2 separate regions of the Homo sapiens genome follow, and region 2 is linked to region 1. A link means that fine-mapping ties the variant in region 1 to the plasma level of a protein whose gene starts in the linked region. Region 1 holds a variant in brackets. A gene starts in the other region. All regions are shown on one strand. Distances are from middle to middle. Region 1 overlaps B3GNT6 (UDP-GlcNAc:betaGal beta-1,3-N-acetylglucosaminyltransferase 6). Region 2 holds the start of MUC2 (mucin 2, oligomeric mucus/gel-forming).

The links. PIP is the posterior inclusion probability: the model's chance that the variant is causal. The UK Biobank Pharma Proteomics Project read protein levels with antibody pairs (Olink). The fine-mapping took linkage between variants from a reference panel, not from the people measured, so its PIPs are less certain.
Region 2: it holds the start of MUC2, and the variant in region 1 is fine-mapped to the plasma level of the MUC2 protein (UK Biobank, PIP above 0.99).

Annotation. Positions count from the first base shown.
Region 1 is chr11:77,037,300-77,045,616 of GRCh38, forward strand. B3GNT6 (UDP-GlcNAc:betaGal beta-1,3-N-acetylglucosaminyltransferase 6) reads left to right here. Exons shown (of 2, transcript NM_138706.5): 2 at 2,253-4,674. The coding sequence starts at 2,253. The coding sequence ends at 3,407. Among named protein-coding and RNA genes, the nearest start is that of ACER3-AS1, 5.8 kb to the left of the region's middle. The variant A/G (reference allele first, on the strand shown) is at 3,242.
Region 2 is chr11:1,070,713-1,079,029 of GRCh38, forward strand. It overlaps MUC2 (mucin 2, oligomeric mucus/gel-forming), which reads left to right and starts at 4,162. Exons shown (of 58, transcript NM_002457.5): 1 at 4,162-4,265; 2 at 4,939-5,209; 3 at 6,742-6,856; 4 at 7,240-7,330; 5 at 7,411-7,520; 6 at 7,600-7,810. The coding sequence starts at 4,190. LOC107987157 (a long non-coding RNA gene) reads right to left here and starts at 2,722. Exons shown (of 5, transcript XR_007062544.1): 1 at 2,553-2,722; 2 at 408-713. RefSeq lists enhancers at 7,109-7,609, 7,635-8,176.

The DNA of each region.
Region 1 (8,317 bases):
TAGGTTGATGAAAAATGCAGAAGAGAGAATCAACGGGGCTTGGGTGGGGAAACGAGGGGAAGGAGGGAGTCAAGCAAGGTTTTGGGCTTGAACAACCCAGGGGATGGCAGCACTCCGGGACAGCTTGGGGGAGGAAGATGAGAGTTCAAGTAGCATCCAAGGTGGCTGTGGACAGCCATATGGAGCTGTTAAGTCAGGCGGCTGGATGGACATGTGGCTCTGGAGCTCGGAGGTCCTAACAGTGAAGGAGACCATCTTGGACAAAGGTGAAATGAGTGTCTAAGTCAGAGCCCTAGAGGCCTTCCACTATTAAAGGTTATTATTAGAGAGGTCAGGTGCGGTGGCTCACACCTGTAATCCCAGCACTTTGGGAAGCCAAGGCGGGAGGATCACTTGAGCCCAAGAGTTTGAGCTCAAGCCTGGACAATATGGCAAGACACTGTCTCTACAAAAAATAGAAAAAATTAGCCAAGCACTGTGGCACATGCCTGTGGTCCCAGCTATTTGGGAGGCTGAGGTGGGAGGATCACCTGAGCCTGGGAAGTGCGGACTGCAGTGAGCCACGATCACACCACTGCATTCCAGCCTAGGTGACAGAGTCTGACCCTGTCTCAAAAAAAAAGAAGAAGGAGAAAGGAAGAAAGAAGAAGAAGAAGAAGAAGAGGAGGGGGGAAGGGGAGGGGGAAGAGGGAGGAGGAGGGGGAGGAGGGGGATATGGGAGGAGGGGGAGGAGAGGGATAGGATGGGAGGGGAATGAGTGGGAGGGGATGAGGGGGAGGGGATGAGGGGGAGGAGGAGGGGGAGGGAGAGAAGGGAGGATAGAGGAGGGAGGAGGGGGAGGAGGAGGGGAGGGGGAGGGGGAAGAGGAGGAGGAGGTTATTAGAGAGGGGGAACTGAGCAAAGGGAACTGAGAAACATGGTCAAAAAGAAAGGAGGAAAGGCAGGAGAGCGTAGAGTCTGTTTTAAGGAGGGAGAAGGAACGGGGCACAGTGGCTCATGCCTGTAATCCCAGCACTTTTCGGGGCTGAGGTGGGAGGATCACTTGAACCCAGGAGTTCAAGACCAGACTGGGCAATATAGTGGGAACCCGTCTCTACAGAAAAAAAAAAAAAAAAAAATTTAATGACCCAGGTGTGGTGGCACGCTCCTGTAGAGCGCCTCAACTACTCCAAAAGCTGAAGTGGGAGGACTGCTTGAGCCTAGGTGGTCAAGACTGCAGTGAGTCATGATGGTGTCACTGCACTCCAGCCTGGGTGACACAGCAAGACCCTGTCTCAAATAAATAAATAGCCAACGGTCTGAGATGCAGAACCTGATGTGACTGAATTTTTAGCAGGGCACAGTTAAATACGGGAAAGGTTGTTCTGACCTGGGATTCGTCCTGGGGGTCTTCATAAAAGCCAGGCCTGAGGTGCACCTGGGCAGGCTACATGCAGGAGAGGGCCTGAAGGTGAATGTTTGGGAACAGCAAATAATACCAGCAGGTAGAATGAGGAGGCAGAGCTAGAGGATGCCGTGGAGATCATCTCACCCATAAGGTCATATCACCCGTGTCACCCAGTCACTGGCCACTTCATACTCATTTCATGCTCACAACAGCCCTGCAGTAGGAATTCACTAACCCTTCGTCACAGATGAGAACACTCAGACCCAGCCATCGGAACTGACTGTTCAGACGGTGCAGATGGGGAAGTGGGGATGGCAGAATTCGGCTCTGGGTCTGAGTTCAGTGCTATCACCTCATGCTTCCTCGACTCGGGAGGCAACGAGGGGAAGTGATTAGAGATGATCCGAGCTGGACAGAGGCGGAGAGGAGGGAATAAATGAGAGGGATGTAGGGCGCAGAATCAACAGGATGCGGAGAGCAGGTAGCAGCTGAGAAGGACAAGGAAGAAGGCTGGGGCTTCTGGCTGGAGTAGTCAGGTGAACGGAGGTGGGAACAGCAGGGTATGGGTTCAGGGGAAGATGGAGACTCAGACGATGAGTCCACTGGGCCTATGTGACGGGTTGTGGGGCGGTGTTGTCAGGAGGCAAAGAGAGACTCAAATCTGAAGGTCAGAGGAACGGTCCGGAGTGTGGGAGACCAGAGACCGTCAGTGTAATCTTGGATTTTGATTCCTTTTTACCACTTAACAGCAGAGTTGAGAAGGGGCTGGAGCTGGGTTCTGGGAGAGAAGTGACGGGGTACGGGTGGTGTCCTGCCGGTGTCAAAGACGACTTCCGGCTCACCTCTGACTCGGTTTCCCCCACAGATGGCTTTTCCCTGCCGCAGGTCCCTGACTGCCAAGACTCTGGCCTGCCTCCTGGTGGGCGTGAGTTTCTTAGCACTGCAGCAGTGGTTCCTCCAGGCGCCAAGGTCCCCGCGGGAGGAGAGGTCCCCGCAGGAGGAGACGCCAGAGGGTCCCACCGACGCTCCCGCGGCTGACGAGCCGCCCTCGGAGCTCGTCCCCGGGCCCCCGTGCGTGGCGAACGCCTCGGCGAACGCCACGGCCGACTTCGAGCAGCTGCCCGCGCGCATCCAGGACTTCCTGCGGTACCGCCACTGCCGCCACTTCCCGCTGCTTTGGGACGCACCGGCCAAGTGCGCCGGCGGCCGAGGCGTGTTCCTGCTCCTGGCGGTGAAGTCGGCGCCTGAGCACTACGAGCGACGCGAGCTCATCCGGCGCACGTGGGGGCAAGAGCGCAGCTACGGCGGGCGGCCAGTGCGCCGCCTCTTTCTATTGGGCACCCCGGGCCCCGAGGACGAGGCGCGCGCGGAGCGGCTGGCGGAGCTGGTGGCGCTGGAGGCGCGCGAGCACGGCGACGTGCTGCAGTGGGCCTTCGCGGACACCTTCCTCAACCTCACGCTCAAGCACCTGCACTTGCTCGACTGGCTGGCTGCACGCTGCCCGCACGCGCGCTTTCTGCTCAGCGGCGACGACGACGTGTTCGTGCACACCGCCAACGTAGTCCGCTTCCTGCAGGCGCAGCCACCCGGCCGCCACCTGTTCTCCGGCCAGCTCATGGAGGGCTCCGTGCCCATCCGCGACAGCTGGAGCAAGTACTTCGTGCCGCCGCAGCTCTTCCCCGGGTCCGCTTACCCGGTGTACTGCAGCGGCGGCGGCTTCCTCCTGTCCGGCCCCACGGCCCGGGCCCTGCGCGCGGCCGCCCGCCACACCCCGCTCTTCCCCATCGACGACGCCTACATGGGCATGTGTCTGGAGCGCGCCGGCCTGGCGCCCAGCGGCCACGAGGGCATCCG[A/G]CCCTTCGGCGTGCAGCTGCCTGGCGCACAGCAGTCCTCCTTCGACCCCTGCATGTACCGCGAGTTGCTGCTAGTGCACCGCTTCGCGCCCTACGAGATGCTGCTCATGTGGAAGGCGCTGCACAGCCCCGCGCTCAGCTGTGACCGGGGACACCGGGTCTCCTGAGGCCAGTTGGGCGGCTTCAGCCCCGGGCCTCCAACCATGTCCATGCTGAGAAGGCAGCTTTCCCGCTCTGGGTACCTTACGTCCTGCCCAGCTCTGTGCACCTGAACCCCAGCTGCGCACTGAAATCAGCTGGGGTGGGGGGTGTGGAAAATGCCTACATCCTGGCTCCATCTCCCGAAGTTTCGATTTGATTAGTCTGGGGTGGACCCAGACATGTTAAGTATTTTTTAAGTTCCTCCAGTGATGCGAATGTGCAGCTAGGCCTGAGGACCACTCGGCTAGACTATCTCTTCATCCTCGCAAAGCCAGCTCCACCGCCCTCTCTGCAAGAATTCCGGGCCCCTCGCTCCCACACTCGGGTCCTCTTGAGCAGTGGAGCAAGGGAGACCTGGGAGCGTGGGAGCCAGGATCAGCGCCCCCTGCCATGTGCCTACAAATGTCAGTTGTGATTTCCACTGTTTACAAGTGAGTGGAGCTGGAGCTGGGCTGACAGTATCAGGTGGATCCCGCTTCCCCCTCCCCCAAGAAGTCAGCCAACACGCAGCTGAGGCGCATGTGGTGGCCTTCTTCCCACCACTACCCCAGTACACCGTGAGGTAGAAATCTTCACCGTGCAAAGTGGAAACCAGAGGCCCGGTCAGACAGTGACTAATCCAGGGCCGTGGCATTCCCAGACAGCACACCACTGTGGTCCCCTCCACACTCACCCCAACCAAAGCTAATGGCCTAGTTGGGTCCTGCCCGCCAATAATCACCCCCACGGGTCAGAGACAGGCTCCTTGCCGGGGTCTGGGCCTCAGGCTCAGTGGGCCTTGGACAACCCAGCAGGGAGTTCCGGGGAGTCCGAAGTGGAGAAAGGCTGGTGGGAACATGGAGGCCAGTGTTGGGGAGCCTGTGGAGGCAGGTGTGTAGAATTGTGTTCGGGAGGTGGGGGATCTGAGACCGAAGTGGACAGTGGTTAAGATTGTGGGGCCGGGCGAGGTGGCTCACGCCTGTAATCCCAGCACTTTGGGAGGCTGAGGAGGTCGGATCATGAGGTCAAGAGTTCGAGACCAGCCTGGCCAATATGGTGAAACCCCGTCTCTATTGGGAGTACAAAAATTAGCCGGCCATAGTGGCTCGTGCCTGTAATCTCAGCTATTTGGGAGGCTGAGGCAGGAGAATCACTTGAACCTGGGAGGCGGAGGTTGCAGTGAGCCGAGATCGTGCCACTGCACTCCAGCCTGGGCGACAGAGCAAGACTGCATCTCAAAAAAAAAAAAAAAAAGGAGAGTTTGCAAGGGTGGGTGGGAACTTGGTGCCTGGGGCTCTGAGAACCAGGCTGTGGTCCTGACCTCCAGCAGCTGCCAGTCATCTTGGCAACATAGAAAATCAAGGAAACGGCCTAAAGGCAGGCAGAAGTGTGTGTCAGCAAGGTCCCAACTATGTAAGATGGACACGAGGGACTCACCTTCAGGGAGGAAAGAGCCGGGGCAGAACGTCAGGAGACTGGCCAAAGGTCCTTCCCTGCCTTCAGGACGAAGACTAGACTCCTCAGTCCTGCATTTCAGGCTCCTGCCACCCGCCTGCTGCTCACTGATCCCTCCCTCCCACTGTCAGCCTCCATCCAGGTGGCAGTGCCTGCGCTTTGTCAGGCTCTCTCTTGTCTCTGCATTTTGCACAAGCTCTGACCTAGTTACCGAAATGTCCTCCAACCACCTCCATCCTGCATGTCTCTTGCACCAGTTAGGACGCCTGTCGGGGAAGCTGCCAGCTGCCCACCTGAGTCGGCTGTTCCCTTCCTCCTGGGCACTCACCTAGACTCCATTTCCCAGCACTCCGTCCCCTGAAGTTAGATGTGGCCCTGTGACTAGGCCCTCATGGATGGACGGGAGTGGATGAGGATCACTGTGGCACCTGGGCCTGCTTATGCTCTCTTCCTCCTTCCCATTCGCTGGAACATGGATGGGCCTGGGACCCAGCTCTGACTTTGCAAGTGAGGACAATGCTTCAGGCCCAAGTGGAAGTTTCTCAACTACTGACATTTGGGGCAGGACGGTTCTTTGTTGTGGGGGGCAGTCCCGTGCATTGTAAAACATTCAGCAGCATCCATGTCCTCCACTCACTAGATACCAGTATCACAGCCCAAGTCATGACACCCAAAGTATCTCCAGACGTTGCCAAACATACCCTGGTGGGAAAATTCACCCTAGCAGAGAACCGCTGGCCTAGAGGAAGGCAGAGAAACGAGGATTCCTGAGTTCCTGCACGGAGCAGAGCAGCCCGGGGACCAACCTGGAATACTCAGTTCAGACTACTGAGGAAGACAAAATAAACTTTTATGCTTTTAAAAAAAATTATGGACAGAACAATATAGACAAAAACTTTTATGATTTTTCAGCTTCTGGGGTTTGTCTACTGTTACAGCAGCCTTGCCCTGCTAGTGTTTTAGTCTGTTCAGGCTGCTGTAACAAAAATACCATAAACTGGGTGTCTTACAAACATTTCTGAAAGTTCTGGAGGCTGGGAAGTCTAAGGTCAAGGTCCCAGCAGGTTTGGTGTCTGGCGAGGGCCCATTCCTCACTGCCTTCTTGCTGTGTCACTGCATGGTGGGAGGGGCAAGCAAGCTCCCACGGCCTCTTTTACAGCGGCCCAGATTCCATTGGTGAGGGTTCTGCCATCATCACATCATCACCACGTCACCTTCAGGGCTAGGATTTCAACGTAAGAATTCCGGGGGGCCGGGTGTGGTGACTCACGCCTGTAATCCCAGCACTTTGGGAGGCTGAGGCGGGCAGATCACGAGGTCAGGAGATAGAGACCATCCTGGCTAACACAGTGAAACCCCGTCTCTACTAAAAATACAAAAAAATTAACCGGGCATGGTGGCAGGCACCTGTAGTCCCAGCTACTCGGGAGGCTGAGGCAGGAGAATGGCGTGAACCTGGGAGGCGGAGCTTCCAGTGAGCCAAGATCACGCCACTGCACTCCAGCCTGGGCGACAGAGCAAGACTCTGTCTCAAAAAAAAAAAAAAAAAAAAGAATTCCGGGGAAACATAAACATTCCAACCATAGCACTTAAGTCACCTGCTGTGTCCCCTTTCATCCCTTGTTTTTCACCAAGTAGACTGGCTGCTCCCAGAGGGAGAGGCCATGTCTGATTTACATCAGGGCTGTCACAGATTTACACAGAGGGAATCCGTGGCAAGTCCCATCACTCCCACTCCTGGAACTTGAGTAGGTCATCTCACCTCTCTGAGCCGCTCTTTCTGATAAGATTTGGCTCTGTTTCCCCACCCAAATCTCATCTTGAATTGTAATTCCCACATGTCAGGGGAGGGACACGTAGGACTGGACAGGCGGGAGGTGATTGGATCACGGGGTCGGATTCCCTCACGTTCTTGTCGTGATAGTGAGTTCTCGCGAGAGGTGATGGTTTTAAAGCGCGGCACTTCCTCATTCTCGCACACACGCCCTCCTGCTGCCCATGAAGAAGGTGTCTGCTTTCCCTTCGCCTTCCGCCATGATTGTAAGTTTCCTGAGGCCTCCTAGCCATGCTTCCTGTTAAATCTGCAGAACTGTGAGTCAATTAAACCTCTTTCTTTTATAATTACACAGTCTCAGGTAGTATTCTTTATAGGAGTGTGAAAATGGACTAATACACTTTCCACAGTGATGTTCCATGCCAGGGCCATGTAAATCCTCTGTAAACCACATAGGAGGGTACTGTCATTCTGCAGGCTTACTGGCAGCTCTGAGAGGTTGAAGGAAGCAGGAGGAGGTGGCACTTCTGTGACCTTTCTGCAGCCCTTGCCGTGGGCCTTCAGTAGCCACAGCCACTTGTCACTTGCTGATCTATTTTCTGAGCAGGCCATAACAAATACTCCTACATGCTTTTGGGGTGAATGGATGAGTGGATGAGTGCCATCTGTCCCAGTGATGTGGACTGTATCTGTTAGGACAGCAGTCCCCAACCTTTTTGGCACCAAGGACTGGTTTTGTGGAAGACAATATTTCCACAGACCAACGTGGGGGATGGTTTGGGGAAGATTCAAGTGCATTACATTTATTGTGCACTTTATTTCTATTATTATTACATGGTAATATATAATGAAATAATTATACAACTCACCATAATGTAAAATCAGTGGAAACCCTGAGCTTGTTTTCCTGCAACTAGACAGTCCCATCGGGGGTGATAGGAGACAGTGATAGATTATCAGGCAGTAGATTCTCATAAGGAGCAGGCGACCTAGATCCCTCACATGCGCAGTTCACAATAGGGTTCATGCTACTATGAGAATCTAATGCTGTCGTTGATCTGACAGGAGGCGGAGCTGAGGTGGTAATGCACGCGATAGGGAGCAACTATAAATTACAAATGAAGCTTTGCTCACCTGCCGCTGTGCAGCCCGGTTCCTAACAGGCCACAACCAATACCGGTCATTGGCCCAGGGATTGGGGACCCCTGTGTTAGGATACTGTACTAGTTCCCTATTGCTGCTGTAACAAATTCCCACAAGCTTGGCTTAAAAGCACACTCATCTGTTACCCTACAGCTCTACCCACCAACTGCACTCCTTACTGGAGGTGCTAGGGAAGGATCCATTTCTTTGCCTTTTCCAGCTTGCAGAGACCTCCTTCCTCCATCTCCAAAACCGACCATGTGGCGGCTCTTGGTGCGTTGCTTCCACAGCCACATCACTCTCTGACTTTCCTGCCTTCTCCTTCCACTTCCAAGGACCCTGTAACTACACTGGGCCTACCTAGATAACCTGGGATTCTTTTCCTATCTTAAAGTCAGCTGATGAGCAACCTTCATTCTACCTCCAACCTTACTTCTCTTTGCCATGTAACATGGTGACATGCCACATGTAACATTCTTATGTAACATGCATCAGTCACAGGTTCCAGGTATTCAGTAGGGTATG
Region 2 (8,317 bases), 76 Mb before region 1:
ACCTGGACCAAGTCTTGAGGGGCAAGTGCCCCAGGGTGTCTGGACTCCTGAAGCACAGCTATCCACCTGATGGCCCTGGCCCTGGGCTGCCCTTTCCTCAATGGAGCCTGCCCAGTGCCCGCCTGCCCAGCAGAGGCCTGGACTGGTTGAGGCCTCTCTTGATCCCTCACCTGAGAACAAACGCCTCTGTGTGCTCACTTGCTCACCCTCCACACCTCACAGAGCAGTGGCACCAACATCCCGCCTTTCACCTCTGCAGTCCTTGGGAGGTGAAGTGCACACCTCCAGGTGTCTCCGAACCTTTGGAGCCCCAGAAAGTGGACATGCTTGGGGTGTCTGAGTCTGCCCTGGAGAGCTGGACGTGACTGGTGTTTTATTTGCCCTCCCTTGAATCCTCAGATGCTCACCTGCCAGGGTGTAGGTCTGGGCCTTGCCACTGTGTCCCTGTGTGGGGCTGGGGTTGGAGCTGGGGTCCTCCTTGGTGTCCAGAGGGCTGAGAACCACGGCTTCTCTGGGTGTGCTCTCCATCTGCCCACCAAGGCAGGGCCAGAGCTGTGGCGCTGGGGTTGGGTGCCAGCCCCCACCACCCTGGTTAAGCCCAGTTGGCTGGGGGCTGGGCAGCCTGGTGCTGGCAGGGTTGGCTGTGGCAGGATGGCTCTGGCCTGCAGAATGGGTGTGGGCCAGCCTGGCCTCTTGTGTCCTGAGATGCTGGCCTTGAGATGGAGACACAAGATGCTCGGTGACTCAGTTTCCCCTTCTGTAATGTGAGCTAATAATCAGACCAACCACATAGGGACATGGAAAAATGGCCCCAGATGACACATGTGACTGACATGTGGGCAGCCTGCACTTGCTGGAGGCCGACATTTCAGTAATCAGCAATGGGGGCCACGTTTGGACCAACACAGGATGTAGGGAGACAGGGGCTGCCACGTGGGGATACCTAGGGCTGCGGTGTGGGCGGGTGGAGTGCTCTCCAGGAAAGCAGGCTCTGTGACTGGTCTCCCGCCCCCGTGGGAGAGGTATTGGCCACATGGGGAGTGCTTGCGGGGGTGGGTGGTGATACTCCAGGGAAGCAATCAGTGGGGCATGGGCCATTACTTCAGGCAGCCTAGGGTGGGCCTCAGGCTGGAGACCCCCGGAGGCCATCAGGAGGCAGCACGTCCTGGAGGCAGCACGTCCTGCTCCTTGGAGGACCAAGGTCTTTTCTTTCAAGGCCCTGCACTGATTGTGTCAGACCCACCTGCTTCGCCAGGGTCACATTTAAGAAGTCCCTTCACAGCAGCATCCAGCCCGGCGCCATGCCAAAGACTGGAGCCATGGCCAGACAGGCCGACTCACAAAGCCACCGTTCGAGCGACCGGGACGTGTGCAGGGGACGCACCTGCTGTCTTTGGCTCCCCCAGCAGCATAGGGGTTCTCTCTTCTCGCCCCCTCCCCAGCCTCCTCTTCCCCTTCCCCTTCCTCCTCCTCCTTTCCCTCTCCCTCTTCCTCCGGTGGCTCTGACCCCCACATGCCCCTCACCCGGGCTTCCTGGTGAGTCAGGTTTGTGGATACACAGTAGGGGGGCCGTCACTTCAGGTGCCATGTGACGTCAGTGCTGCCTCCTCCCTGCAGTCACTACTGCAAATTCCATGCAGCCGTTGGCAACAGTGTCTTGTCACGGTAAACATGTTGGGCGTGGGCAGGGTGGGGAGAGGCTGGGGGGGCCAGGATGCTGTCTGTGTGGGAAGCTGTACTCCAGGATGCTGTCTGTGTGGGAGGCTGTACTCCAGGATGCTGTCTGTGTGGGAGGCTGTACTCCATGCAGCCTCGTTCTGAGTCCCAGCCGGGGCCTGAGGCTGGGGCAGCCTGACATGGGGCTGGGGATGTGGGCTCCTGGCTCAACTGTGTCCGGCCCGCCGTTGGGTGGGTGGTCATTCCCACCACTGCCATCATGTTCTTGTCACAGAAAGCAGAACCGACAAGCATTTTCCTCGGAGTGGTCAAAGCCCCCACTCTCTCCCTCCACCAGGGTCCCTCGAACCCCATGGGAAAGCCACAGAGTGGCGATGGGGTCCCAGGGCAATACGGCTGCCCACTCTCCCACTCTGCACTTGCTGGAGGCCGACATTTCAGTAACCAGCAATGGGGGCCACATTTGGACCAACACAGGACGTGGGGAGAGAGGGGATGCAGTGCTGTGGAACTGCCTGGCCCCCATCGCCTCCACCACCACAGTAGATGCTGCGAATCTGGCAGTGGGGACCGGCTGAGGCTTGGAGGCAAAGAGGCTGGGGACACTCTCGCTTTGGGGGTGCCAGTGACTCCATAGTCGCCCCGGCCTGATGGAGCCCTCACTGTCCTCTTCCCCAGAACAGCTCCCTTTCCCCGTTAGGAATGGGGTTCAGCTCTCTGCACCCTGCCCCATGCAGGGCTGCCTGTAACCTCAGACAGGGCTCCTACCTGGGACCTTGCCATGGGCCAAGAGGGGTGTTGGGGTCAGACCCCTGAGCCTGGGAACCACCACTGCCCGTCCAGAGGGGACACAGGGTCAGATCTAGGGGACCTACCTCAGGCTTCAGGGCTGGAGGGGCTGTGCTGGGCAGCTTGTGCTCCGCTAGGATTCCTCCAATCCCCCCAGGGCAGGGGGAGCCTGGCCTGGAAAATCTCTGTCCTGAGGCCCGCCTGGGGCATGTCAGGGTCAGGGGACTGCAGTTGGGGCCGTCCTTGGGTTTCCCCAGGGCTCAGTGCCAGTGTGCGGAGGCCCACACCAGGAAGTGAACAATGATCTCCTCTGGCCTCGCCCAGCTGGCTCTGGTTTCCTAATCCCCGGTCCTCCTGGCAGGGGCCACACACTGAGCTTCCTCCACGTGCCCAGGTCCTGGCAGGGAGCGCAGACCCTGGGGCCTGGTGCTGGCGGGCACCGCAGGAGGGCGGGAGGGGCTTCGTCCCAGGCCCTGGGTCTGGGCAGCAGGTCAGCCAGGGAAACAGGCTTGGTGCTTTGGGCCCCGAGTCTCTATAACTGTTGGGGTGAGTCCCTCCCCACTGCCATCATGCTGCCGGCATGTCCCTGGCATGTTCAGGCCAAAGCCAGGAACTCAACTCAGGGCCCCTCTCTATTTTCAGGAGGAGAAAATTGTAGAGAGAGGGGAGGGCCCCCAGACCTCAGTTTACCCACTGGCGACACAGGGGTGCCTGCCTGTGCCCTCCCGGGCCGGGGCAAGCAGTGGTGGGCCCAGTGGTCTCGTAGTCTGGGGTCGGTGTGAGTTCCGGTTCTCCAGGCTTTTTTCCAGACAACTGCTGGGATTGGTGGGCGAGACCAAGGCTCATCAAAGGCACAGCCTTGGGGGCAGGATCCCCACCATGAGTCAGAGGTAGTTCTGGGGAGCCTGGGCAGGCTGTCACCTCCTCAGCTGTCAGGCCCGAGGTCCTCATGTGGTCCCCAGGAGAAGGGGCAGACGGCCACTTCCGGCCACCAGCCAGCTCCCTGTGTGCCTGATTCCGTAACATGTCCCCTGGCTGGGCATGTACTCCCCAAGTTCTAATTACATGTAACTGCAGAGAAGGGCTCAGCCTGGGAAAAGGATGGGCATAGGGGGTGGTTGGGGGCTGGGGCCTCTGACACAGCTCCATGAGCCCGGCCAAGAGTCCCACACAAGTCAGTGGCCCCCCCGGACCCTGAAGGATCCCACATCCTCCCTGCCCTCGGGGAGGCCCCTTTCTGGGGTCAGGCCTGGAAGCTGCCCCAGAGCTTGGGCCCCAGGAATGGGTTGGTCCTCCCAGCGTAACGTGAGCCTGATCAGGCCTGGGGACCTGCTCAGCGGGTGTCTGGGGGCCCATGGCGGGCTAAGGAGCCTGACCAGACTTGCTTCTGGCAGGACACCCCTCCCCCGGCCACCCTGGGCTCGCCCCTCTAGTAGCTGCATGTGTTCCCCGGGTGTGTGTTGGCATTCAGGCTACAGGGCTGCCTCATCCTGAAGAAGGCTGCGTTTACCCAGGGAGCCATAAAGAGATGACCTCCGATAACCTGAATCAATATTTCCCCATTGGGGCTCGGGCCCCCGCAGCTGTCTTCTTGATCATCTGGCAGATGCCACACCCACCCTTGGCCCTCCCCTGCCTTCCTGCCCTCCTACCCTCCTGCCAGGACATATAAGGACCAGACCCCTGCCCCCGGGCGCAACCCACACCGCCCCTGCCAGCCACCATGGGGCTGCCACTAGCCCGCCTGGCGGCTGTGTGCCTGGCCCTGTCTTTGGCAGGGGGCTCGGAGCTCCAGACAGGTGAGAGAGCAGACACAGGGGTCTGGGGCCTGGCAGAGTGTCCTGGGGGCAGGGCGAGGCGGGCGGGCAAGTCGCGTCTGGGAGGAGGAGCTGGTCCCAGAGTGCAGCCTGCGCGGCTCTGCTGAGGCTCCTGGCCCGGGTTGGTCCCTGGAAGCCCCCGGCCCTGCTGACTTTCAAGGAGCTGGAAGGTCGGGGCTCCCCTGCTATTCCTTTGGGGTTGACTGCCCGACGACAGTGTGGGTCTTGGGGCCAGCACCAGGTGGAAACAGCAGGTCAGGCCCCAGTGAACTGGGTCATTGTCCATAGGGGAGGAAGGGGTGGCCAGGATCCCACCAGAAGGCCCCATTCTCAGGTGGCAGAGACCCTTGAAGAGTTGGGGCAGCACAGCCCTTGCTGGGGAGCGGGGTGCCCAGAATGCCCTCTCCTACATCCCGCTTGGCACCCGGCCGCACTCCTCACCAGGCCGGGGGTAGAAGCCCTGAGACCCCTGTGGTGGGGTGACCAAGGCCCAGCAGAGGGCCCGAGGATAGGAAGGAACCTTTCCCGGCCAGGGGCCCTGTGCTGGGCTCGAAGCTGCTTCCAGGTGCTTCTTCAGGGGCCTTCTCTCGAGGGTAGCTTGGGCAGCCTTCCCCCTCCGGGGCCACTCACCCCTCATTCCCCGCTGCTCCCTCAGAGGGCAGAACCCGAAACCACGGCCACAACGTCTGCAGCACCTGGGGCAACTTCCACTACAAGACCTTCGACGGGGACGTCTTCCGCTTCCCCGGCCCCTGCGACTACAACTTCGCCTCCGACTGCCGAGGCTCCTACAAGGAATTTGCTGTGCACCTGAAGCGGGGTCCGGGCCAGGCTGAGGCCCCCGCCGGGGTGGAGTCCATCCTGCTGACCATCAAGGATGACACCATCTACCTCACCCGCCACCTGGCTGTGCTTAACGGGGCCGTGTGAGTGTGGTCGGTGGCACCCCTCCCACATCCTAGCAACGGGGGCTGATGTTTCCCAAAGGGATATTCCTTGTAGCCCTAGAAGACCCCTTCCGCCCCAGCACACAGCTCAGGAGAACAGCCTTGAGGTTTGGGTTCAGGTCACTAATTCATTCAACAAACACTGATGAGCCCCCACCATTCCCCCCATAGGCAAGGGGTTTCAGTTATCCCTTTGCCTGTGTGTCCCTGACAGCCCCTCCCCTCGGAGCCCACCAGGCTCCGGACAGACTTGGCACCCCTGGAGGCTGCATGTCTCTGGTCCTGTGCATGGAGTGGCCGTGTGTGCCCTCCCCAGGCTAGAGTTACAGAAGCCGGTGCAGGGGGCTGTGGGACCCCCTTCCCCATCCCCAGCTATTGCTCCCCTATTGTCTCCAGAACAATGAGGCCCTGTAAGTGCGTTCCCATCCAGCGCCTGCCCCTCTTCTGCCTGGGGATTTAGTTTCCTGCAAGGCGCCCCAGCATGGGCATGGGCAGGCGGGTGGAGGCCCTCAGGCATGGGCATGGGCAGGCGGGTGGGTAGAGGCCCTCAGGCGTGAGTGCGGGCGGGTGGGTGGATAGAAGCCGTCAGGCATGGGTGCAGGCGGGTGGGTAGAGGTCCTCAGGTGTGGGCATGGGCAGGTGGGTGGGTAGAGGCCGTCAGGTGTGGGCGCGGGTGGGTGGGTAGAGGCCCTCAGGCATGGGTGCAGGCGGGTGGGTGGGTAGAGGCCCTCAGGCGTGGGCGCGGGTGGGTGGATAGAGGCCGTCAGGCGTAGGTGCGGGCGGGTGGGTAGAGGTCCTCAGGTGTGGGCGCAGGTGGGTGGGTGGGTAGAGGCCCTCAGGCATGGCACAGGTGGGTGGGTAGAGGCCCTCAGGCATGGGCGCAGGCGGGTGGGTGGGTAGGGGCCCTCAGGCATGGGTGTTGGCAGGTGGGTGGGTAGAGGCTTTCAGGCATGGGCAGGCAGGTAGAGGCCCTTGAGGACCGAGGCACAGAGGCTGGGGTGAGTGCCTCTACCTGGACCAGCAAGGGGCACTGGCAGGAGGTGGGGTAGGGCCCCTGACGTTCTCAGGGGCAGCCTGGGGGGCTCTGGGGGGTTTGGGACCCCATGGGGGGATGTTCCACCAAGCAGGGGGCCTGGAAGGGGGCTGGGCAGCCTGGTCCTCCCTCCTCTCCCAACCTGGTGCCCTCAGGGCCTCTGAGGGGGGACCCTGCCCAGGACCGTGCCCCGAGGAGGGAGTGGAGAGGAGGGGCGTGCAGGCAGGAGGTGGCTCTGCCGGGGAAGCCCGGCCAGCGGAGATGGACAGGTGCTCTTTGGCCACTGCCTATGTCCCTCCACCCCAGAGGCCGGCCAAGTTGGTGATCCCAGGGCAGGAGCTGGGCCTGGCAGAGCCATCTCCACCACCCCAGGTGCCCAGCTTCAGTCCCCTCTGGGCGGCGGGGTCCCGGGAGGACAAGCTGGGGCGGGGGGGCCTGGGTGGTGGACCCAAGAGTGACCCCGATGTGCCTCCGCCAGGGTCAGCACCCCGCACTACAGCCCCGGGCTGCTCATTGAGAAGAGCGATGCCTACACCAAAGTCTACTCCCGCGCCGGCCTCACCCTCATGTGGAACCGGGAGGATGCACTCATGGTGCTCAGGGGTCCCCGGACTCGTGGGGCTGGTGGGGGCTCCGTCAGGCCTCTGGGCAGACCCCAAGGGAGGGCAGGGAGGGCAGTGCTCTGACCCCTCACCGAGAGGGCATGGGTGGGGCAGGGCCTCGGCAGCGCAGGGCGTCGGTGCTGGACTTGGGGGGCAGCAGCAGAAGCCGACCTGGCCCTGACCCCCCCAGGCCTCAGCCTTCCCCCAAACGCACTCGGCTTCTCAGGGACCTGCCCTGCCAGGCCGCTCCCTGGCTGCTGACCCCAGCCTTCCTGCCCCACCTTCCTCTGGCTCAAACAAGCCACGAGTCTTGGGGGTTCCTGGCGGCTGTGGGCCGGGCGGGAGGCCAGCTCACCTGCTCCCTCCCGCAACAGCTGGAGCTGGACACTAAGTTCCGGAACCACACCTGTGGCCTCTGCGGGGACTACAACGGCCTGCAGAGCTATTCAGAATTCCTCTCTGACGGTGAGGCCCGGAGGGCTTGGAGGGGGCAGGGTAGGCTACGGGCCCCCAGGAGCCCTAGCTGAAGGGCCGTGCATCCCCAGGCGTGCTCTTCAGTCCCCTGGAGTTTGGGAACATGCAGAAGATCAACCAGCCCGATGTGGTGTGTGAGGATCCCGAGGAGGAGGTGGCCCCCGCATCCTGCTCCGAGCACGTGAGTCCCCTCGGTCCGGGGTGGGGGTCCTGGCGGAGCTGGCCTCTGAATAGCATGCTCACCCTGCGTCTGTCCCCAGCGCGCCGAGTGTGAGAGGCTGCTGACCGCCGAGGCCTTCGCGGACTGTCAGGACCTGGTGCCGCTGGAGCCGTATCTGCGCGCCTGCCAGCAGGACCGCTGCCGGTGCCCGGGCGGTGACACCTGCGTCTGCAGCACCGTGGCCGAGTTCTCCCGCCAGTGCTCCCACGCCGGCGGCCGGCCCGGGAACTGGAGGACCGCCACGCTCTGCCGTAAGCCCCGGCGCCTTGTGGGCAGGGGACCCCAGGGAGACCCCACGCTGGTGCTTTCCCCAAGCCCGGGTGGGAGCTGTGTCTGTGCCGGGCACCTTGAGCTGGGGGGACACTCACCGCACCGGGCACCTTGAGCTGGGGGAACACTAACCGTGCCGGGCACCGGGAGCTGGGGGGACACTCACCGTGCCGGGCACCTTGAGCTGGGGGGACACTCACCGTGCCGGGCACCGGGAGCTGGGGGGACACTCACCACGGGCACCGAGAGCTGGGGGGACACTCACCGTGCCGGGCACCGGGAGCTGGGGGGACACTCACCGTGACGGGCACCGGGAGCTGGGGGGACACTCACCGTGACGGGCACCGGGAGCTGGGGGGACACTCACCGTGCCGGGCACCGGGAGCTGGGGGGACACTCACCACGGGCACCGGGAGCTGGGGGGACACTCACCGTGCCGGGCACCTTGAGCTGGGGGGACACTCACCGTGCCGGGCACCGGGAGCTGG